Linked DNA regions of Homo sapiens: regions 1, 2, 4 and 5 are each linked to region 3. The links come from fine-mapping of genetic effects on gene expression. A gene starts in region 3. Each other region holds a variant in brackets. All regions are shown on one strand. Distances are from middle to middle. Region 1 overlaps SIRPA (signal regulatory protein alpha). Region 2 overlaps LOC105372499 (a long non-coding RNA gene). Region 3 holds the start of SIRPB1 (signal regulatory protein beta 1). Region 4 overlaps SIRPB1 (signal regulatory protein beta 1). Region 5 overlaps SIRPB1 (signal regulatory protein beta 1).

Region 1 (4,516 bases), 290 kb after region 3:
CCCACTTCATGGATGATGGAATGGGGGTCCAGGGAAGGTGGGTACAGAGGTGGCTAAGAGGGGAGCCATGCTGTCACCCAGGCCTGCTGGCCCTAGCAACTGTGCTTCCCCGAGGCAGCCTTTCCAGTTGGTCCAGTCTCGAGGCTGAAATACAGACCTATCCGGAAAGTTCCTAGCTCAGTGCTGCTGGTGCTGCCTCTGATGTCCCCGCCTGGATGGGCCTCCCGGGCCTCCCACACATTTGGCCACCAGCCTCACCCCTCTCAGGCCGTCTGATGCTGGCTGGGCCTCTGTCCACTGTGGGTTCTGTCTGTCCACTGTGGGTTCTGTTTTTTTCTCCTGTGCCATGAAGATCTTGCCATGTTCAACTTCAAATGGAAATGAAATGAGAAGCTGGACTTCCTGATAATAAAAGCAGTTGAGGTCTTAAGTGGTTGATCAGGAAAAGGAAGTCGAAATGGTAATATTTACACCCAAAGCAGGTGGAGTGGTCTTAGGCACTCTGAGACTCCACTCACCTGCCATGAGAACCGGGCCCCAAGGGTGATCCCTTGCCAGAGTCAAGACTGGGTGAGGCTGGGAATGGGAGAAAGAGGCAGGACAATGGGCAGATAGCCCTGGGCTTCCTGCAGTGAGGGCAGATAGGGGTCTGTGAGCCTCTTTCCCTGGCTGCCCTGCCCCTGCCAGTGGGGTGGTGCCAGGCCATGGGTTGGTGGGCAAATTCACAGGGTCTCTCTCCTCCCCAGCCAGAGCCAGAGGGGCACAGCAGCTCTGGACATCTGCCGCAGCCTTGTCTGATGTACAAGGCAAAGGTGGCCCAGGTCAGGGCAGGACAAGGTCACATGAAGGGTCAGTGGAGAGCCCAACTGGGGCCCCAGGTCACCTGTCACCTGCATACCAGGTAGCTGCCACTCCTCTGTCTACCTGGTTCTCTCCTTCTCCCCTATTCTAGCTCGCTCTCTCACTCTGCGTCTGTCTCTCAGGCATGTGTTTCTCTGAGGTCTTTATGATCATGATCTTTCTTTTTTTTGTTTCTTGTACCTCACCTTGTTCAGAATCGAGGCCCTGGCTCTGCCTTGCTCTGAACTGTTCTCACTTGGTCCCTATCCATCTTCAACGCATCTCATGACAAGCTCGTCCTGCCCTCTTCCTGTCTGGGCTCCCCCCGTGCACCCCAATCTCTCCACCCAGGGTCCCTGTCTTGTGTGCCCCAGTGTCTCTGATTGGGGCTCAGGCTCCTGCAGCCAACCTCTACAATTCCTTCCAGCTGCCCATTTGGGAGCCCTTGAGGCCTGGACTGGGTCCAGCTCCAGTGTGTCCCCATCACAGTGAGGCCTGGATCACAGGGCATCAGCAGGTGTTGGTGAGAGTGAAGTTTGAGCCACAGCCACCTCCTTGTTTATTCAATGTATAGTAACAACAACTTCCTCAGGGCCCATCTCAGGGCTAAGTGACTTCTATGTGTGATCTCGTTTTCTTTTCAGAACAAAGCAGAGGCCTGGGGGCTGTTCTACCCATCCTGTAGATAAGAAAACTGAGACTCAAAACTGATGGATAAATTAAGGTCCCACAAGAACAAGGGGCGAGCCAGGTTTCAAACCAGGTCCGATGACTCTAAAGACCAGATGCTGCATTTGGACGCTGTCCCCAGCCTTGGCTTATTTTATCCTCCCAGAGATCCATCGAGGTGGGGTCATAGTAACTATTTTACAGATGAAGAAACCAAGGCTGAGAGCAGTAAGGGCAAACTAAGGGCAGCTCTTGCATTTGTGTGACACTTTGCTAGCCAGGCTCAGTCCTGGGTTCCAGGTGGGGACTCAAACACACTGGCACGAGTCTACATTGGATATTCTTGGTTACCTGAGTGGTGGCCCAAGGACACAGCTATAGGCCACTGATCCAGAACTCAAACTACATTCTCCTACTGCCCAAACCGCTGAGTACAGCCTCCCTTCTCGGGGCCTGCATCCTGGGCCAGGCCAGAAACAGAATCTTAACACCTTGTACAGCCCCAGATATGCCAGGCCCCTACCTCTGAGTCTTTGCCCAGGCTGTTCCCTCTGTCTGGAATACCAGGCTCCCTTCTGGCTCATTCAGATTAGAATTAGCCCAGCTCAGATGTGACTCTTCCAGAGAGGGTCCAGGCATTCAAACCCACTCTCTGCCATGTCATTTAGCTTTCTGTGCCTCAGTGTCCCCACTTAGAATACAGGCTCATGTTGCAGGTTTGTTGTGAGGGTCAAATGAGATGATACATGCACTATACTGATCTCACAGCCTGCTTCTGGTGTGCATCCAGTCAATGAACGTCATTGATAAACACTTGAGGAAACACAGAGGATCACGTAAGGATGAAAAAATGACTGCTTTGTGCTCCTTTCCAGGAGTGGCGGGTGAGGAGGAGCTGCAGGTGATTCAGCCTGACAAGTCCGTGTTGGTTGCAGCTGGAGAGACAGCCACTCTGCGCTGCACTGCGACCTCTCTGATCCCTGTGGGGCCCATCCAGTGGTTCAGAGGAGCTGGACCAGGCCGGGAATTAATCTACAATCAAAAAGAAGGCCACTTCCCCCGGGTAACAACTGTTTCAGACCTCACAAAGAGAAACAACATGGACTTTTCCATCCGCATCGGTAACATCACCCCAGCAGATGCCGGCACCTACTACTGTGTGAAGTTCCGGAAAGGGAGCCCCGATGACGTGGAGTTTAAGTCTGGAGCAGGCACTGAGCTGTCTGTGCG[C/T]GGTGAGTACAGCGTGGGCCTCCTTTGCCTCTGGTTTGTGACAGTAACTCAATAATAACACCCTCCATTCTTTGAGCAATGATCAGGTGTGGTGGTAGGTGCTCCTTTCCATGAATTGATGTCTCCCCCTTTTACAAATAAGGGAAGTTGAGGCCTGAAGACGTCATGCTATTTGCTGAAGGCTCCACAGCTGGTAAAGGGTGGGAACATCTGCATCCTTCATCTGCCTGGCTGTGTAGCCCTGGCCTCTTCAAAGCTGACCCAGCCCTTTCATTCCACAGATGAGGAAACTGACAGATAGTGTGACTTGCCCAGGCACAGGACCAGACCTCACCTGCTGCCTCCAGAGAGCACTTCCCTCTCAGGGCAGCCGAGTCTCCTCTATGTGACAGGCACTCACTGAGAACCTACTGTGTGCCAGGCTCCGCCAAGCTTGTGTTCTCATCCCTTCCAATAAGAGATCCACCCAGGGCAGGGAGCAGAGAGGGTGTGTTTCCTTTATTTCATCACCAAACACCAACTGAGAAGATTCCTAAAAGGCACAGATTTACTGTTTAATCTGATGGCCCTGGTGAGAGGAGAAGCCAGAGGGTTGGGCATTTTCTGTGGGTCTTTTAGAAAAACACTTGTGTGATTTAGGGACTGATTCATGCGTCACTAAAGGCTCTGAACAAAGCTGGGTCATCATAGAATGTCTCTCACCCCAGGGAGGAGGTCTCCCTTCTAGGTGACTTTGGGTTCCTCCGTTAAGGCAGCAAAGATGCTCATTTTGTATTTACTGCCAGAGCCCCAGGATCCTTGTTCTAACTCCGAATCCTGGGACATTAGTACAGGAAGGACCCTCAGACCATCCAGCCCAACCCCTAGTTACAGGTGGAAACTTGAAGTCAGGAGATGACAGGGGCCTTGTCCACAGTCATAGGCCCAGTTAGTGACAGGATCTGGACCAGAGCCCACATCTGATTCCAGGGAGGCTCCTTCATTAGCCATTGTTTACATAGAAGAGCCTGGTGCATCATAGGTGCCGACTGAAAGCTCCTTGAACAGAACTGCTAAGCAGGAAGCCAGCACTTCTCCTTTCCATCAGTTTCCTAAAGGTTCAGAATATTCACATTCAGACCGTTAGGCCCACTGGTGATTGGAAAACCGCTCCCAAATGTAAGCCATATCATTTGATACTGAGATTTCATATCAGGATAGAGACCTGCTCCATTGTGTAATAGCTACAGAATACTCCAGCTTATGGAAATACCAGATTTATTTTACCATCTTCCATTGATGGATACGTAACTTGTCCCCAAACTTGAACTATTAAAACAGTCCTGCAGTGGATGACCTTATACATGTGTGACCTTACTCAGGTGGGAGACGCCCACTGCAAGTGCCATTGCTAGATCAGAGGGGGTGTGTGTTTTAATGTGTGTGGATATGGCCTAATTTCCCTCCTAGACATTATAACAATCAAGTCTCCCCACAACCGCTGGACATAGGCAGGGAGGGTGGCTTTATCCTGATTGTGCAGATGTTACAGGAAAAGACGTTGAAGTTCCCAGATGATGCATCTCGTGCCTAGACAATCACAGCAAATACGTGGCTCAGGTGTGACCCAGATCTGCTGACTCCTAGCAGAGTGCTCACTCCTCTTTGCCATGCTGTCAGCCTAAATGATGCCCTGGATGAGAAAGGAGGGAGGTGGGAGGGGGCCAGGGAGCAGCAGCTGGATTGGATCCTCATCCTGGCACTTTCTCCTTTTATAACAAGTACTTATGAAGGAAGA
Region 2 (4,516 bases), 90 kb before region 3:
CAAACTTACTGAGACTTATTTATGGCTGAGAATACAATCTATGTTGGTAAATGTTTCTTTTGTAGTTAAAAAGAATGTGTATTCTCTTGTTTTGGGATGGAGCATTCTATAAGTATCAGTTAGCTCAAGTTGGCTTATAGTGCTGTTCAAGTCTTCTACATCTTTACTGATTTTCTGCCTCCTTTTTTTACCAATTATTGAAAGAGAGGTTTTGAGATCTGACTATAATTGTAGATTTTTCTATATATTCTTGCAATTCCATGAGTTTTGTTTTATGTATTTTGAAACTCTATTATTATATGCATCAACATTTAGAATTGGTATATTTTATTAATTGATAAGCTTATTATAAATGATATTCTATGTTCTCATAATTTCTTTGTTCTAAATACACTTTGATATTAATGTAGGCATTCCATATTTAAAAAATTATTGTTGATGTTGCATATATTTTTCTGTCCTTTTATTTTTAATCTATTTGTGCCTTTATTTTTGAAGAGAATCAATTCTCTGCAGGCAGCAAATAGTGGATCCTACTTTAAAAAATATAATGCAAAAATCACTTTATTTTAATTGGTGTGTTTAAACCATTTACATTTAATATGATTATTTATATGACTAGGTCTAAATCTATGATCTTGCTACTTACTAGCCTCATCTCTTTTCCAGTGTACCTCATTTTCTGTCTTCTTTTGGATTGATTTTTATGATTCTGATTTATGTCTTTTGTCAGTTTATTAGCTATTACTCTTTGTTGTGTTATTTTACTGGTTGTTTTGGGATTTCTGGCATACATTATTAACTCATCATTATTTACCATGAGTGATAAGGTATCACTTCACACATAGCATAAAATTCTTACAGTAATATATTTCTGTGTCTCTCTTCCTGGTCTTTGTGCTATTTTTCTCACACATTTTACTTCCATGTATGTTATAATTTGTCAAATATATTATTATTGTATTTGCTTTGAACAGCTATGTTTTAAGTACATTTAAATATACTTTTAAAATATTTTCCCACATTGTTACTATTTCTCTTGCTTTTAATTTCTTTGTATATATCCAGGTTTCCATCTGGTATCATTTCACTACTGTTGGAAGGACTTCTTTTTAACATTTCTTGTAGTGCAGATCTGTTGATGATGAATTCTTTCAGCTTTTGTATGATTGATAAAATCTTTATTCTTCACTTCAAAAATTGTGGTAAAGTACACATAAGATCTGCCATCTTAACCATTTTTTAGTGTACAGTTCAGTGGCATTGAGTACACATTTAGAGTACAGTTTCAGTGGCATGAGTCACATTGTTGTGCAACCATCACCACTATACATCTCTAGAATGCTTTCCATCTAGCAAAACTGGGAAAATATATGGAATGCATCACAAATTTGCATTCCATCCGTGTACACAGGCCATACTAATCTCTGTATCATTTCACTCTTAGTATCTGTGCTGCCAAAGTGAGTACTTAACTCCAGCCTGGATGGCAGAGCAAGACTGGCTCAAAAAATAGATAAATAAATTAAATGCTTAATTTTATGTATTTATTTTAAAAGATATTTTTGCTAGGTAAAAATTCTAGAATGACTAATTAATTATTGTTTTCTTTTTAAAAATGCTTTAAATAGCCAGGCATCGTGGGGCATGCCTGTAATCCCAGCATTTTGGGAGGCCGAGGAGGGTGGATCACCTGAGGTCAGGAGTTCGAGACCAGCTTGGTCAATATGGTGAAACCTTGTCTCTACTAAAAGTACGAAAATTAGCCAGGCATGATGGCAGGTGCCTGTAATCCCAGCTACTCGGGAGGGTGAGGCAGGAGAATTGCTTGAATCTGGGAGGCGGAGGTTGCAGTGAGTCGAGATCGCGCCGCTGCACTCCAGTCTGGGTGATGAGGGTGAAACTCTGTCTCAAAAAAAAAAGAAAAAAAGCTTTAAAGATGTATCCCCACTGTCTTAAGCTTGCATTATTTTTGATGAAAAGTCTCCTGTATTTTTTGTTCTTTTGTATTTAATATTTCTTTTTGGGGGGCTGCTTTTAAGATATTTTCTTTATTGGTTTGTGCAACTTGGTTTGTGCTTGGGGTTCATCGAGTTTTTGGATCTGTGGGTCTACAGTTTTCATCATATTTGGAACATATGTGACCATTATTTCTTCAAATATTCTTTCTGTCCCCTCTTCCACTGGTGTCTCCAATACATATCTATTAGGCCACTTGAAATTTCCCCATAGCTGCTGATTGATGCTCTGTTTATCTTTTTTTTTTGAGATGGAGTCTCGCTCTGTCGCCCAGGCTGGAGTGCAGTGGTGCCATCTCGGCTCACTGCAAGCTCCACCTCCTGGGTTCACGCCATTCTCCTGCCTCAGCCTCCCAAGTAGCTGGGACTACAGGCGCCCGCCACCACGCCCGACTAATGTTTTGTTTTTTTTTTAG[C/T]AGAGATGGGATTTCACCGTGTTAGCCAGGATGGTCTCGATCTCCTGACCTCGTGATCCACCCGCCTTGGCCTCCCAATGTGCTGGGATTACAGGCGTGAGCCACTGCATCTGGCTGCTCTGTTTATCTTTTATACAGTTTTTAATTTTTTTGGTCTTATATTTGGATGTGGCTTTATATATTCCATTTTTATCTCTCTGTGTCATTTTGAATAGTTTCTGTTGTTGTGTCTTTAAGTTCATTAATCTATTTTCTTCAACATCTTAACTGCTATTAATCCTACTCAGTCTATTTTTCATCTTAGATATTGCAGCTTTCATCTCTAAAAGTTCAATATGGATCTTTTAAATATTTTCCGTGCATCTACTTCACATATTCAGTTTTTCTTCTAGCTTCCTGAACATACAGAGTATACTTATAATAACTTTAATTTCTTTGTGTACTAATTTTATCACCTGTCTTTTCTGGTTAGTTTCAAATGATTAATTTTTCTTATTATGAATCACATTTTCCTGCCATTTTCATGCCTGGTAATTTTTTATTGGATAACAGATATTGTGACTTTTACTTCAATGGGTAGTGGGTATTTTGCCTTTCTATAAATATGCTTGAGCTTGTTTTGGGACATGGTTAAATTACCTGGAAGCGGTTTGAACTTTTCATGTTTTGGACTTAAGCTTTGCAAGGCATGCCTCCAGCATCATTTGGTCTAGGGCTAATTCTTTTTCCTTTACTGAGGCAGAACTCTTCTGTGTATTCTACCAGATGTCCCATGAATTATAAGTTTTTTTCACTCAGGTTGTAAAGATCAGGCACTATTCTTAGCCTTGCGTAAGCTCCAGAAATTTTTCTCCTCTGGCCTCATGTACTTTTCTCATGTACATAATACACTTTTCAATACTTCACTGAATATTCAATGGGGACCTTTTACAGATATTTGGAGTTCTCTTTCTGTGAAACGACCTGCTCTTTGGTGCCCTACCCTGAAAACTCTAGTCACTTGGCCTCTGTGGACATCCAGGTCCTTCTTAACAACTCAGGGAGAACTTCGGGCTCCACCTGAGTTATCTCGTTCTGCATGGTGGTCTTAAAGCCTTCTCAGAGAGTACTCTTAGGGCAGCCTTAGGGCTCGCTTCATTTATGTCCCATTTCACAGGGATCACTGTCCTTTGTTGCCTGGTATCCAATGTCTTGTCTACCATGTTTTAAATAATTTGCCCAGATTTTTAGCAAGAGAGTAAATCCAGTCCCCATCACTATTTTGGTAGAAGTTGCCCCAATTATTTAATTTAATTTAATTTTGCTATTGTACTATGTGTTTGTCTTTTTTCACTGTATGTTCTAACTGGTTTTTCTTTGTATATGTGAAGGTTGTTGATTTCTGTTTGTTGATTTTATAACTTACTATGTTACTTAAATTATCTTGTTTTTTATAGCAGTTTAATGTTGATTCTATTAAGTTTTCCAGATACCATATCATCTACAAAGAGAGATAGTTTTCCCACTTCCTTTGCAATTAATATGCTTTTTATTGTTCTCTCCTTCTAAAAGCATTGACAAATACTTCAACGTAATGTTAAATACTATTAGAAATGGTGGGCATGAGTTTGAAGACTGCTTAAGTATTCTACTGATTCTATCTTTTGGAGATGTCCCTAGTAATGCTGCAAGTCCTCCTGTTCTGGAATGGCCCAGTGGCCATTTCTATGCCTCCTGCACAACTGTTATCTTAGGGTTTCCAATCCCCTATTCCTAGTTCTCATTCTTACCTTTTTTTTTTTGTATGACTCCTATTTTAGTTAAGCATAAGAGGGTGTAAAAAGCAATTCTTGATAATCTTGCAAACTCCATAGATTGTCTGGGTAAATGATTTTAGCTTTGAAATAATTTTCCCTAAGAATTGTGAAGGCACTATTCCTTGTATTCCTGGGTCTAATATTGTCCTTAGGCATCTCATGCTGGTGTCACTCACAGTGCTTTGTGCATAACTTTTTAGTTTCAATTCTTTAAAATTGTATGACATTCTCTTTGTCCCCAAAGACTGCCTACCATTCTCCTTGTTTCTCCATGGCTGTAAGCTAA
Region 3 (4,516 bases):
ACACACACATATATGTATATATACACACACACACATATATATGTATATATAGACACACACATATACATTCACAAATATATATCAAAGTGTGACCTATTGTGATAGTATATAAGTTTGTTTTGTGTATTAAATAAAATTACAACACACGTTAAAATCTCATTAAAATATCTGGCCCATAGAAAGTAAAATATGTGGCCCATAGAAAGCATCCAACACATTAATAACAAATTTAGAAGTACATACATCACAGTTGTAACTCTGGTTGTTGCTAACAAGTGTGGTAGGCAATAATTAATTCTATGTTTACTTCCCTGCATTTTCTAATATTTCTGCTAGTAGCATAACACGACTAAAAGAATGAACTTTGGAGCCGGTCGACCTGGACTTGAATCTCAGCTGCTCCACTGACTGAGGTAGGGGACAATGAATGGACAAGTTCCTCCCTCTGCCTGAGTCTTTGTTTGGAAATAGGGGATAATAGTTGCAGCTTTCACACAGGGATGTTGTGAGGATTAGTGGAGCTAAAACAGGCAAAATGCTAATAACTGTGTCTACATGGTAGGAAGAGCTCAATTGTTAAACTCTTACTGCTGTCATTTGGGTACAGTGTATGTGTGAGAAAAATAATTTGAAAAGTGAGACCCCTGCCCTCTAGGGCCTGTGAGGTGACATCACAGCAGGGCCCAGTGGGGAATTGAGAGGCTGCTGTGCCCAGCCCTGTGGTTCTGGGGTCAGCTCCATGGCCTGAGAAGGGATCAGGACAGGTAACTTGTCTGGGAGCTGTGAGCAGGGTTCTCCCAGGCTGCACCAGGAAAGGCCCTCCAATCCTGCCTGTCTTGGGAAGGGGAAAGAAATTATCCATGGGAAATTTAAGAGAACCAAAGGAGGTTGTAGTACCTGTTATGGGCTGAATGTGTCCCACAAAATGCATGTGTTGAAGCTCTAATCCCCAGCACCTCTGAACGTTACAGTTTGGGAGACAGGGTCTTTAAGAAGTAATTTAGTTAAATGAGGTCATTGGGGTGGGCCTTAATACAACAAGACTGATATTCTCATAAGAAGAGGAGATGAGGACACAGACACACACAGAGGAAGATCATGTGTTTAAGACACAGAGAGAAAATGGCCCTGTATAAGCCAAGGAGAGAGACTTCAGTAGAAACTAACCCTGCTGACACCTTGATCTTGGACTTCAGCCTCCTTAACTGCAAGGAAGTAAATATCTGTAGTTTCAGCCACCCAGCCTGCAGTTCTTTGTTATGGAAGCCCTAGGAAAGGAATATAGGACCCAGTAAGCAGCAAATGTGGAACTTCTTAAAGAGGAAGAGGCCACAGAGAAATGGGTGGTAAGAATCAGGTCACAGGGGAGGGAGGAGCATGGGGGAACAGAGGACAAAGTGAGGAGCACCCTTAGGGAGGATGGTGGCTGAACACTCCCAGGATACACCACACCACTGCCCTACTCAAGTGAGCACTATTACAGACTTCACATCCTCAGTTTGGTGAAGAGAGAGGGCTGGGCCTAGAGCCACATAACCCTGTTAGGGTGTCTCTGAGCTTACTCTGTGGACTTGGGCATGTCACTTGGCCCTAGGGCCTCAGGACTGGTGAGGATTTAGATAATGATTCTTCTCTGCTTTTTCAATTGAAATATTATCAAAATGTAAGTAATTGTTGTTGTGGTGGTTGAATCGTCCTGTGGTTCAATGCCTCTGGTAGCCAGCTGCAGATCCACAGAGAAAGTGCTCAGCTCCCTGATTTTCTGCTCTCAGTCAAAGCCTAATCCTTGGCCTTTCTTGGCAGCACTTGTCATTGTCCGGAATCCCTGAAAGTCCAGGGACAGGCCATGGCTCAGTGGGCAGGAAAAAAGATTTTAACCGAAGGCAGTGCTCACCTGTGAGTCTCCCCAGCAGTAGCGTCATCAGCAGGAAAGGACTAGGAAGGTGGGGCCAGGAGGCTGGCACGGGCATTCTGGAGACCTTAGGAGCCTGCTCTGTCCAAACGTCTGTGCTGGGAAGATCGCAGACTCTGCTCTGAGGAGAGAAGACAAGCCCTGCCTCCCTTAGTTCAAGAGGAAGTGGCTGCGATGGAGTGAAGCAGTAACCTGCTTCTGGATTGTGAAACAGAAATCAGGAACAGCAAGCAGCTACAATGCAAGCAGTTATGCATGCCCCATTTCAGGAGAATCAGACAGGCTTAGCAGAAATAATGCTTCCTTCCCACCTGAGGTCTTAACTCCTTCCATGACTCCTAACCCCATCTTTATGTCTTCTTGGTGATTTGCCATTTGGTGCTCTTAAGCCAGGAAGGACCTGTGGTTATGAAATGTTTCCTAAACTTTCCATCTCAAGACCTCAGGATGTGGTTGGCTTGTGGTCTCATTCTACAACAGCCTCAACCAAGTGCTACTCAGTTGGGGCAGGATGAGGGATCACTGGACCTGCTCAGTGTTGGAGAGGAACAGGTCTGCTCTTGAAATGGTTCCCTATTCCGAACTTTTATAAATATAAATGGCAAAACTTAGCCCAAATTCAGTCTCATGTGGCCGTTAGCACTTTCATATGCCTGCACCCAGCAGAAGGAATTATTTCCTGACTTCTTCCAGGAGAGGAAGTGGGCTTAGGGTAATAAGGATCTGCTTTGTGAGGTGAGGTGGGGATTATGGGTTATGGAAAGGGGATATGTTTATTATGGGGGAGAATATGGAGGGCAGATTCCTGGAGCAGTCACATCGATTTCAATACTCTTTGCTCTGCACATAGAACACCTATTCCATTCATCACTGTCTTCAGATGGGAACTGAGGAGGGAGGGAGAATAAATACCCTAAGAAGATGTGCTAAGGAGTTGGGGAAGTTACTGGGCCTGCCTAGGTTCAGTTTTGCCTTCTAACCTTGGGATAATAAGTCTCACTGCCATGTTTTAGTGAACATCAAAAGAGATAATGACTATACATCCCTGAGATTCAGTAGGTTATTATTGATACTCATGGTGCCAGGTGAAGAGAGGGAACTCAAATATTGCTTTTAAATGGATTTCTACTGCATGCTGAGTTTCCCACCAGTGGCCTTCTCCCATGTTCCCCGGACTTCTGGAACCCAGCTTTTATGGTGTACTTGGTCTACCTCTGACACTCTGAGATCAATTTCTCCCTCTGGATCCTCTTCACCCTGCTTTTTGTCAATCTGTAGATGAATTCCTTTTCTTACAATCTCCAGCTGTGTGACTTTCAACAAGACACTTGACTTCTCTAAGCCTTAACTTAATTACATGTAAATGGAAGTTATAACATGCACCTTGTAGTGATATGGTAAGAGTAATATAAGCCATACAGAAGGTTTGATTCATATTTAATTATAACCAAAAAATTGTGGCTATAATTACATTTGTGTACAGGGTGAGTTCACTGCTTCCCTGACATACTTGTGCTTTAGAAAAATTTCCTTGGTAGGAGAAATGGTTTCTCCTCCATCATCTGTGACTAAGAAAGACCTGTCTGGAAACCTCTCTTTCCCATGCTGGGCTTGCAATCCTTCACCTATCATGAGTAATTGTCAAATGAAATTGTAAAAGTCATCACATTTCCATGCAAATTTCTTTTTCAATGTGGCAGATGCACAGAGGGTGAAATCATCACCTCCTGCTCCACACTCACAGAAATGAATATAAAAATGATAAAATCATGTTAATCGATGCCAAATTACACTTTAAAACAAGAAACTAGTCTCTATATGACATGAAGGGTAGTAGCTGCTGTGTTTACTGCAGATGTCCTGTGCTCCAGGTACTGTGCCAAGCATTTTGTCAGTTACCTCATTAATTCATCACTCTGGTCCCATGAAATTAGCACTACCATTAACCTTTTTTTATAGGTGAGGAAACTTGAGGCACGCAGGCAATAATACATTTGTTCAACATCACCCAGCTTTTAGAACTAGAACACAGGTTGTCACACTCCATGGCCTTCACTATGACACCTCTCATAAGAAGGGAGAGATATCTCTCAGGAAGGAAGCAGAGAAGAAGCCATAACGTCAATTAGGCGCAGCCTCCACAGCAAGGTTGGGATAGGTGCCATGTTCCATAAAGTGCTGACAGCCCATGATCACTCAGGGCATTATTCCTGTAAAGATTACAGTGAAAGCAGTAATCACTAAAGATTTGGGGAAAAGCGACATCATAATAAATTCAAAAACAATAACTAAAAAACAAAAACAGCAATGAAAATAACATCTTAGAAAATAATACCTCAGAAAATAAAAATATAAAATGTGAAAATATTTTTAACATTAACATATTTAGTAACCTTATAGAGATAATGAAAAGAAAGTAAATCCATAAAACAAAGTCACGTGTGAAACAAGAATAGGTAGGTGTGCAGTAACAACAGGTATCTGAGAAAAGTAATAAAAAGAAGAATTTTGAAAAAATATAATTAGTGCTAAATTGTTTAAAAAACAAATAGGTGGATGTATTAATCTGTTCTTTCTATAATTGTTATAATGAAATACCTGAGA
Region 4 (4,516 bases), 59 kb before region 3:
CACCTGCCTCAGCCTCCCAAAGTGCTGGGATTTCAGGTGTGAGCCACTGAGCCTGGCCTCTTTGTATACCTTAAATATTCAAGTTTGAGTTTCAGATCTGCACTCACAAACCTTATCTTCTCCCACACCATGCCTGTTTTGTATATGGTACCATCATCTAAGCAGTTTGTCAAACCAGGAAGGGACTCATGTTCTATACCCTCACTTATCCACTTGTTACCAAGTGAAAGGGGGTTGCTGCCTGATGTGCTAGAAGCCAATACTGTGACACCAGGCTTTTGAGAAAAGAAAAGCTTTTTATTGCAAGTTGACTAACAGGAAGACAGAAGTCTACCTCAAATCTAGCTCCATGTGCTGGCTTCAAGGCAGTAGTTTTATTAGCAAAAGTTTAGGGGTTGGATTCTGGGATTAGTATGTGATTTGTGAAAGGAAAGGGGAGGTCTGGAAAGTCCTTGGGCATGTACAGTTATCTCTCTATGCCTCTTCACGGCTCCCATGTGCAAAACCCTGGGGCGTCATCATGAAATACGTGGTAGAAACTCAGGCTGTGACATCAGCAAGCTCATTCTGAGCAAACTCCAGTTGGCCATATTGGTTCCAACAGATTTTAGTCAGTTTTGTTATCCTACAAGTGGAGGAAGTTTCGGCAGTTTAGCAATTTTTTTTTTTTCTTATCTGCTATCCTGTAAACTCAAGAATTTCTTAGTGACTGGTTTCTTTAACTCTTTGGGGGCATAGTTTCACACTCCTATCTTGCCCCTACCAGGCCCTATTGGATTTACCTCCTAAATCCCTTCTGAATTAATCTCTTTCTCCATCTCTATCATCATCTCTTGCCTGAATAAGAACAATTGCCTTCTCACTAGGGTACCCCCATTTTTATTTGCCCCCTATAATCTCTTTCTCCTTCTTCAGCCAGACTGGTCTTTTTACAACATAGATTTAATTATGTCCCTCTCTTGAATAAACATTTTTGTGGATTCTCATTAATCTGGAGGTACTATAAACAAGGCTTTCTTCTGTGACTGACTTGCTCCCTTAGAGATGAAGGGATCCCCACCTTTCTGATACGTAGCATAGCTTCACTGTCCCAGGTTGGGTTCCCTGGGAGACAGACTCTGGGGTGAAGATGAACAAGCAGGTTATCTTTCAGGGAGTACTTTTAGGATCAACACTTGTGGACGGGAGAAGATGGAAGCAGGACTGGGTAGAAGAAGAAGCTGGGCTGCAATGAAGTCCCATTGAAGACCTCAGCTGACCTTGCATGGAGCCTGGTACTAGGATATTCCTCCAGAGTTGCTCTGAGTTAGGATAAGAGAGCTGGGCCTTTATACGACTAGGTTGATGAGTCCAATGAGATGTGGTTTGTTACCAGATACGACCTAAGCAAGGGCACTCCCTTCAGCTGAGACAATCGCAAATAGAGCTGATGCTGAGGACCATCTCCACAGCCAGGTGCCTCTCAGCATCCATTACACAATTCATGGGAACAACTTGTTCCTGTGAAGACTTGGGCTCAGGACATTATTCACTCACTCATAGTCAGGTCCTCAAAGCTATCCCAGCTCACCCACATAACCCAAAGTTTTCTGATCCCACTTGGTCTGACCTGGATTTTACTAATGGGAAAAGTTTAGGGTGAGCATCACGGGGGATTGAGAAGCCACTTCCTCTGGGATCTGAGTGCCTAGATCTGGGGTGAGCTCTGGTAGTGGACAGAGGAAGGACGAGAGGAAAGGAAACCTCAGGCTTTTGAAGTGAGATAAAACTTTGGAATATCAACAAAGTCTCCCTACCGCACATTTCCTTGCATTGTTCCCCACGGGGTACAAGAGGCAAATAAAACCTAGCTGAGGACAAGACGTTAATTTTTTCTAATAGACTTAATTTTTTAAGGACAGCTTTAGATTTACAGAAAAATTGAGCCCTAT[C/T]ATTAGCATCTTACATTGATATGATACATTATTATAATCAATGAACCAATATTGATACATTATGATTAATCAAAGTTCATAGTTTATTTAGATCTTTTCTTTTTACCTAATGTCGTTTTTCTCTTCCAGCATCCCATCCAGGATACCTGTTACATTTACTTGTCATATCTCCTCAAGCTTCTCTTGGCTATGACAGTTTTTTAGACTTTCCTTGATTTTGATGACCTTGACAGTTTTGAGGAGTTCTGGGCCCGATGTTGCAGAATGCCTCCTTATTGAAATTTGTCTGATGTTTTCCTCATGATTAGATTGGGGTTGTGAGTTTTGGGGGGAAGGTAATAGAGGAAAAGTGTCATCTTCATCACATCATATTAAAGGTACATATTAGTGACATGATTTATGATTCTTGATGTTGATTTATAACTGTTGATGAACTCTTGATCACCTGGCTGAAGCTGTATTTGTCAGATTTTTCCACTGTAAAGTTATTTTTTCTCCTTTTTTCCATGCTGTACTCTTTGCAAAGAAGTCGCAGTGCACAGCCCACACTTCAGGAGTGGAAGTTATGTTCCACCTCCTTTAGAGTGGAGTGTATAAATAAATTATCTGGGACTCTTCTGCACTGGAGATTCTTCTCTTCTTTCCCATTAATTTATTCAATCATTTATTTATATCAGTATGGACTCAGATATTTATTTTATACTTTGGACTATAACTCATTACTACTTTACTTATTTTTTTGCTGAAAGTGTTCCAGCTTTGGCCTTTGGGAGCTCTTTCAGTTGGTTCCTGCGCCTCTTTGATGTACTCCAGTCACTGTGGGTTTTGGTTTTGGGGTTGACTTTTTTTTCTTGTTAGCACTTTCTTACTTTCTAGAGGATGTTGAATTTTTGATGGAATGTTTTAAACAGAAAGAAGAGAGAGTAGTCTTTAAAGAAAGAGCTTGAGAATACAGCACACAAGCCAAGTGATCAAATGAAGAGAAGTTTTCTTTTGAAATCCAACACCTAGTAGAAACCAATGACCTCAATGATGTATTCACTCATTTAAAAAAATTGACAGCCTATTATATGGCAGACACAGTTCTGGCAACTGAGGATACAGATAATCCTCCCCCACCCCCAACCCCCCACGATATAACTGACATTCCATTTGCGTAACATAGATAAATACAGGCAGTTCTCACTTTGGTGATGACATGCATGCATTTCTCTTACCATAGTTTAGTTAAGTAACATCAGTCCCACAACACAAGTCTCAAAATTTAGGTGCCATAGTAAATTTAATGTAATTTGCATAGAGTACAAACTTCTGGGCTAGCTCTTCAGTCCACAAATCACCATGGTAATAAAAGCTCGTCATGATCAGTAACCAGTCATGTTGTGTCTTTCAAAGTCTGTTGGTGATTGGTCCCTATGGCTCTCCTACTCAAACAGCAAATCCTATAGTTGGGTTGCCTCCTTGCCTCCCAGTGATGAGCCCATATGACATTTTACAGAAATGAATAATTGAAAGAGGAATTTTGCAACCAAGATGAAAGTGCAGTGAAGAAATGAGAAGTGAAAATGCTGCAAGTGAGGTTCAAATTGAATGTGAGTGGAATTCTAGAAGTACAAATAGTTGACTGTGGCAATGTAGACCCTGATGCAGGAACTTCAGATAGGCAGCCAGAGGGAGGTAGTAAACGCAAACTGCCACAAATGGGAGAGGAGTGGTAATAAAAGGGCTGAAGATGTCCCAAAGGTTGAAATGCCAGCAAAAAACTTCACATGAAAGGATCTTCTGGAGTGATTCCACAATATTGAAAATTCAAGGGATAAGATGTTGGAAGCTAGTCCAAACTTAGAAAGATGGCAAAACACCAAGGTATAATAGAAATGATGCTTGCTGGCTAGGCATGGTGGCTCATGCCTGTAATCCCAGCACTTTGGGAGGCCAAGACAGGTGGATCACCTGAGGTCGGGAGTTCAAGACTAGTCTGATCAACATGGAGAAACCCCATCTCTACTAAAAATACAAAATTAGCTGGGTGTGGTGGTACATGCCTGTAATCCCAGCTACTCAGGAGGCTGAGGCAGGAGAATCACTTGAACCCTGGAGGCGGGGGTTGCAGTGAGCCAAGATCACGACATTGCACTCCAGCCTGGGCAATAAGGGTGAAACTCCATCTCAAAAAAATAAAAATAAAATAAACAAATGAAAAGAAACAATGCTTGCTCCGTGTATTAGCCCATTCTCACACTGCTATAAAGAACTACCAGAAACTGGATATTTTATGAATAAAAGAGGTTTAATTGGACTCACAGTTCCACAGGCTTAACAGGAAGCATGACTGGGAGGCCTCAGGAAACTTACAACCATGGTGGAAGGAGAAAAGGAAGCAGGCACCTTCTTCACATGGTGGCAGGAGGGAGAGAGAGAGAGAGAGCGAAGGGGGACTTGCCACACACTTTCAAAAAACCAGATCTCATGAGAACTCACTGAGATCTTATGAGAACTCACTATCACAAGAACAGCAAGGGGGAAGTCCGCCCCCATGATTCAGTCACCTCCTACCAGGCCCATCCCACAACACATGCAGATTA
Region 5 (4,516 bases), 49 kb before region 3:
GGTGCATGCGTGAGCAAGTTTTCAGTGGACGTGACTATGCACCTTCCACACATCTCTGATGATTGGGGACATTGTTTGTCTTCTATTTCGTGTCTTTCCTCTTCTGGCAGGCAGGGACATGAACAAATCCGTGACTCAGCACTGACCCAGGAGATGACGCAAACATCATAGGGTGTTTTGGAAGGAACCTGAGTCCTTATTCTTATTTCCTGGAGCCTCAGGGCAGAAAGAATAGAAGATTGGGCCCCAGCCATCATTAGAAGAGTAGCAGAATCACAAAGGATGTTGAATGTCAGCTTTAATGGCTTCTATGCTGGGGTTGGGCCCTGATGGGGAAGTTGTGGGACCCTGAGATGTGGGAGGATGTATTCGGGTCAAAGCACTCAAAGATTGTCTTTCGACTGGAGTAGAGGGACCCCTCCTGGTATTAAAAGAGAGGGAAATAAGACATATTTTGGTTATAGAGAGGGGGAACACTGGCCAAATTTGGGTCCTTGGGACAAAGCGCAGCAGAAAGGGAAAGTTTCTCTAATTAGCACAAATTCCCATTATAGCCTGGTAGTGAGCCTGTCCTCAGGGACTAGATTTACCTTCATTACTTTGGACCAATAACCTGGTCTAATGACAAGAAGTCTTCAACAACATCCCTCATTACTTCCTAAGTCCTGGTTTCCCCTTTGGTAAAACTCCAAGCTCACTGGGTGTTTGAAGCAGGAAAGGAGATCAGAGATGAACAGAAATTTGCATATAGTAAATGTGCAGAGTGGTTGTGATTATTGTTGGTCAAATATCACCATCAGAACACAAAAGAAGCCTGTGCTGTGACCAGGTCACCTGGGGGTCTGTCCAGGCTTAAACTTCACTTGTCTTTCTGAAATTTATAGAGCAGATGCTGGAGACTGGTGGCTGAGGTCACAGATGCGGATGGAAAAGTTTAGGATAGAATAGGGACAAGGTAGAGGTTAGAAAGTGTAAAAGGCAAGGTGCTGTGCTGGCGAGAAATGCAGAAGAAGGCGAGACACAGGACTTCATAAACAAACGGATCACCTCCCTCTCTCTTTTTTCCTTTAATGTATATTTATGTCAAAATATCTATCAAGTTGTGCATCAGACTTGACGCACAGTTTCTCCTGGTAGATGGGGCTTAAGGGTGTCTACAAATGGCCAATTGTTACCTTGAACCTTCTAAGTAGTGGTGACCCATGGAGTGTAGGATTTTAATGTAGACGTTAAAATTCTACTTTATATTTATAGACTTCTAGCTTATTTTATGACAAGCATGAATATTGCTTTTAACATTAAAGAAAAAGACAAAATTTAAAAATGGGAAGTAACCGCACCATGGGTGATATCTGAGCCGTGCTCCTTCTGGTGCGCTGAGATCTCCAGGGCATAGCTTTTGCTGACTGCTTGCTGCCCATCATGCTCCACCTGACAGGTGAGCACCACATCGTCCCTGTGGGCACAGGTGTTCACCAGGAGCCAGCTCATCCAGTTGTAGGTGCCATCCTTGTTCTCTATGAGGGTCGAAGCTGTTTCTGTCCGGGACACATTTCCATTCTCCAACCAGGTCAGCTGTAGTCCCCGGGGGTAGAAATTGCTCACCTGGCAGGTGACGTTTGCCTGGTTCTCTGCCCTCATGGGCTGTTGAGTAACCTCCAAGGTGGGTGGAACTGAAACAGCACAGGGCAGAAGCTCTGATCTTGTGGCACAGACAGATCACAGGGAGGGCTAAATAACGTAGCTCCCACCAACACAGTGAGGGCATCACCAGGACAGTGCTAGGCAGGCAGCAGGTGCTCAGACATTGAGGGCACTCGTTGCATATGAGTGAAATTACTAAGCACAGTGCCTGGCGCACAGTAGGTGCCCAAGGACTGTTAGCTGCTGCTAGGCTAAGGATGAGTGAAATCTACAAGCACAACCCCTGGCATGCAGTTGGAATGTAAGAACTGTAGCAAAATCAGTGAAATCGCCGAGCACATAGTGATTTGGCTCCTAGTAGGTGCTCACTAATTGTAGTTGCTCTTGGTGAAATAAATGAAACTCTGTAGCCCAGAGCTTGGCACATGGTTGCTGGTCCCCTGACAGCTGCCATTAAAATGATAGTAAGTGACCGGCTCACCTAGGTGCATGGGAGGTGGACAACACAGTTAGGAATTAGATTCCAGGCCTTTCAAGCTCTGGAGCCTGGGGAGAGGGGAGTGGGCTTGGCAGCCAGGTGTGGGCTTGGGCTGGGTGTGAGGGTCTTCTACCTCGGATGGCCTCAGACAAGTTGGCAGTCCCACGAAGAGGGTCCCCCTGCAAGGTGATGTGGGC[T/C]ATCTCGCAGATGACTTGAGAGTGAACGTCCCCACGGGTCAGCACCACCCTGGCTGTGCTGTGGATGCTGTAGGACACACTGTCTCCTGCGGGGTCCACGTTGGTCTGGAAGTCTGAGAGCTCATTCCCATTTTTGAACCATTTCAGGGTGATGTCTCTGGGAGAGAAGCCATGGGACTCGCAGGTGAAGCTCACTGTGTGCTCAGGTGTGGCCCTCACCGCAGGGCCCGATACCACGGGGGCAGAGGGTTTGGCTACAAAAGGACCATCGATAATCAGGAGACATGACTCAGATGACCATCACTGATGATAAGCGTTTGACATGTTAAGAACCTTCTGAGACGTTAGTTTTTAATCTTTCTAATAATGTCGTGAAGGCAGTGTCCTTATTCTCATTTTACAGATCAGGACACAACAGCTCTTAGAGGTGAGAACCAGGCCATGGTCAGACAGTGAGTAGGGGCAGGGCCCAGAGGGAAGTCCAGGCCTGAGTTCAAAGTCCTCTCCACACAGGGAGACTTCCACCAATCTGGGCATAGGAACAAAATTACTGATTGGTCTCCCTCCATGTTATTAACTGGTCCTAGCTGTCCTCCCCCGGAAGGCTCACTAACCTCAGAGAGGGCATTTATAGAAGCCAATACAGGGATCAATGGCAAAGTGGCACCACCGTGAGAGCTGCAACCAGGCTGCTCAGCCCAGGACAGGGGTGGGCTGACAACCCCAGCTCCTCATCCGCAAAACAGGAGGACGGAGGACGGCGTTTCTACTTCCTGGGATGTCGCCAGGATTCAATGGGGCAATGGAAGCAGTTTTGCTCTGGATCAAACACAGAAGATGCTTCCCCCAAAAAACACAGATCTATCTTTAACCCAGACTTTACAGATACACAGAGGTCTCTCTTTAGGTATTATAAAAATATGAAACATTCCGTATTTTTCTTTTCACAAATATTTCGTTCTGTCAAATAAAAGGCATTAATTAAGGATAAAGCTTTAACGTAGAGCCAAGAGTTTGTAAGAGCATTGGAATCACACCTGCTAAAGGTCAAGCCACAGGATGTTGCAGTAGATAGACCTGGATAACAACTGAAGCCAGGGTCCGTGGGATTTTGATCTCTTTCACCTGGAGTACTTTAATGAAATAACCAATGAGAGTGGGTTTGCAGTTGAGGATTTTCAACCAGCTAATGAACTGTTTCCAAAAACAACCTTTTGTGAAAATCCCCTATAAAAAACCTGTCCTGTATTGCCATACGGGACACTATTCAGGGTTTCACTGACTCAGTGTACCCAAATTGCACCTCTTTATCTTTCAGATAAATGCTATTTCCTTTGGCCTTCCTAACAATCATTTTGCTGTTGTTGTTAGTTGTTCTAATCTGCTGGAAGTCCTAAATTTGAAAAGAGGAAATTTTTGGGAATCTGAATCTTCAGTTAGGACAGGTTTGGGTGAAAAACAAGGATCACTGAGTACTAAGAAAGCCAAAGGTGGTTAGCTTTTTCATCGTTAATTAATTACAAGAGACAAAGACCCAGGCCACACCAACAGACAGAAACCTATTCTGGGCCTTGAAAGCAAACACATTGGAGAATCAGAACAACGAGTGCAGTTTCTCCATGTAGATGAATTTTAAGGGTGTCTGCAAATTGCTAATTGTTACCTTGAACCTTCTGCCGTCCTCTTAGAAAGCACATATTATACGTTTGACTTTGCCAATATTAACTTGCTCCCTGATATGCGTGAAATAATGTGAGAGCACAGTAAGGAGGGTGTCACTTGAAGATGTCAAGTCTTTGAGACACCAGCAGCATGGGTGTCCCTAGAAGGCTGAGAGGCTGTCTTCAGTTCCGATTTTTTGAGGGCTTCTTGGCAGCCTGATGCTGGCTGCTCTCTCTGTACCTCTCAGCACTTCAATCCTCCTTCTATTTGTCAGAGGGGGTCCTCATGTGAGCCCTTGTGTAGGGCGAGACTCTGAGAGGATCCTTGGTGGCCAAGGGCCAAAAGTAGATAGAAACCCCACCCTGGGAAGATGAGTGAGGGTAAGTGCAAGGGCATAGCCTGGCATGTAGTAGGTGCTTAATAAATAACCCCTGTGACTGTAATCATGAGGTTTGGTCATTACTGCTTCTGGAGCTGCATAGCTATTCTTTAGGCAACAGAACAAAGAGGCACACAAACACCAAGGAAAGGCTCA

What was found. PIP is the estimated chance that this variant, and not a neighbour inherited with it, causes the effect.
Region 1: its variant is fine-mapped to the expression of SIRPB1 in breast (GTEx, PIP 0.98). The same link has a PIP of 0.9 or more in cerebral cortex and nucleus accumbens.
Region 2: its variant is fine-mapped to the expression of SIRPB1 in whole blood (INTERVAL, PIP above 0.99). The same link has a PIP of 0.9 or more in lung.
Region 4: its variant is fine-mapped to the expression of SIRPB1 in whole blood (TOPMed, PIP above 0.99).
Region 5: its variant is fine-mapped to the expression of SIRPB1 in whole blood (INTERVAL, PIP above 0.99).

Annotation. Positions count from the first base shown.
Region 1 is chr20:1,912,715-1,917,230 of GRCh38, forward strand. It overlaps SIRPA (signal regulatory protein alpha), which reads left to right. Exons shown (of 8, transcript NM_001040023.2): 2 at 2,385-2,741. Among named protein-coding and RNA genes, the nearest start is that of SIRPA, 20 kb to the left of the region's middle. The variant C/T (reference allele first, on the strand shown) is at 2,740.
Region 2 is chr20:1,527,689-1,532,204 of GRCh38, forward strand. The region is part of intron 2 of LOC105372499 (a long non-coding RNA gene); the gene reads left to right. It also overlaps the pseudogene RNU6-917P. Among named protein-coding and RNA genes, the nearest start is that of SIRPD, 28 kb to the right of the region's middle. The variant C/T (reference allele first, on the strand shown) is at 2,435.
Region 3 is chr20:1,617,975-1,622,490 of GRCh38, forward strand. SIRPB1 (signal regulatory protein beta 1) reads right to left here and starts at 2,035. Exons shown (of 6, transcript NM_006065.5): 1 at 1,895-2,035. The coding sequence starts at 1,970.
Region 4 is chr20:1,559,392-1,563,907 of GRCh38, forward strand. It overlaps SIRPB1 (signal regulatory protein beta 1), which reads right to left. Exons shown (of 6, transcript NM_006065.5): 6 at 1,994-4,516. It overlaps LOC107985409 (a long non-coding RNA gene), which reads left to right. Exons shown (of 3, transcript XR_007067493.1): 2 at 1,154-1,274; 3 at 2,061-2,146. Among named protein-coding and RNA genes, the nearest start is that of SIRPD, 3.9 kb to the left of the region's middle. The variant C/T (reference allele first, on the strand shown) is at 1,932.
Region 5 is chr20:1,569,465-1,573,980 of GRCh38, forward strand. SIRPB1 (signal regulatory protein beta 1) reads right to left here. Exons shown (of 6, transcript NM_006065.5): 3 at 2,256-2,573; 4 at 1,341-1,673. Among named protein-coding and RNA genes, the nearest start is that of SIRPD, 14 kb to the left of the region's middle. The variant T/C (reference allele first, on the strand shown) is at 2,320.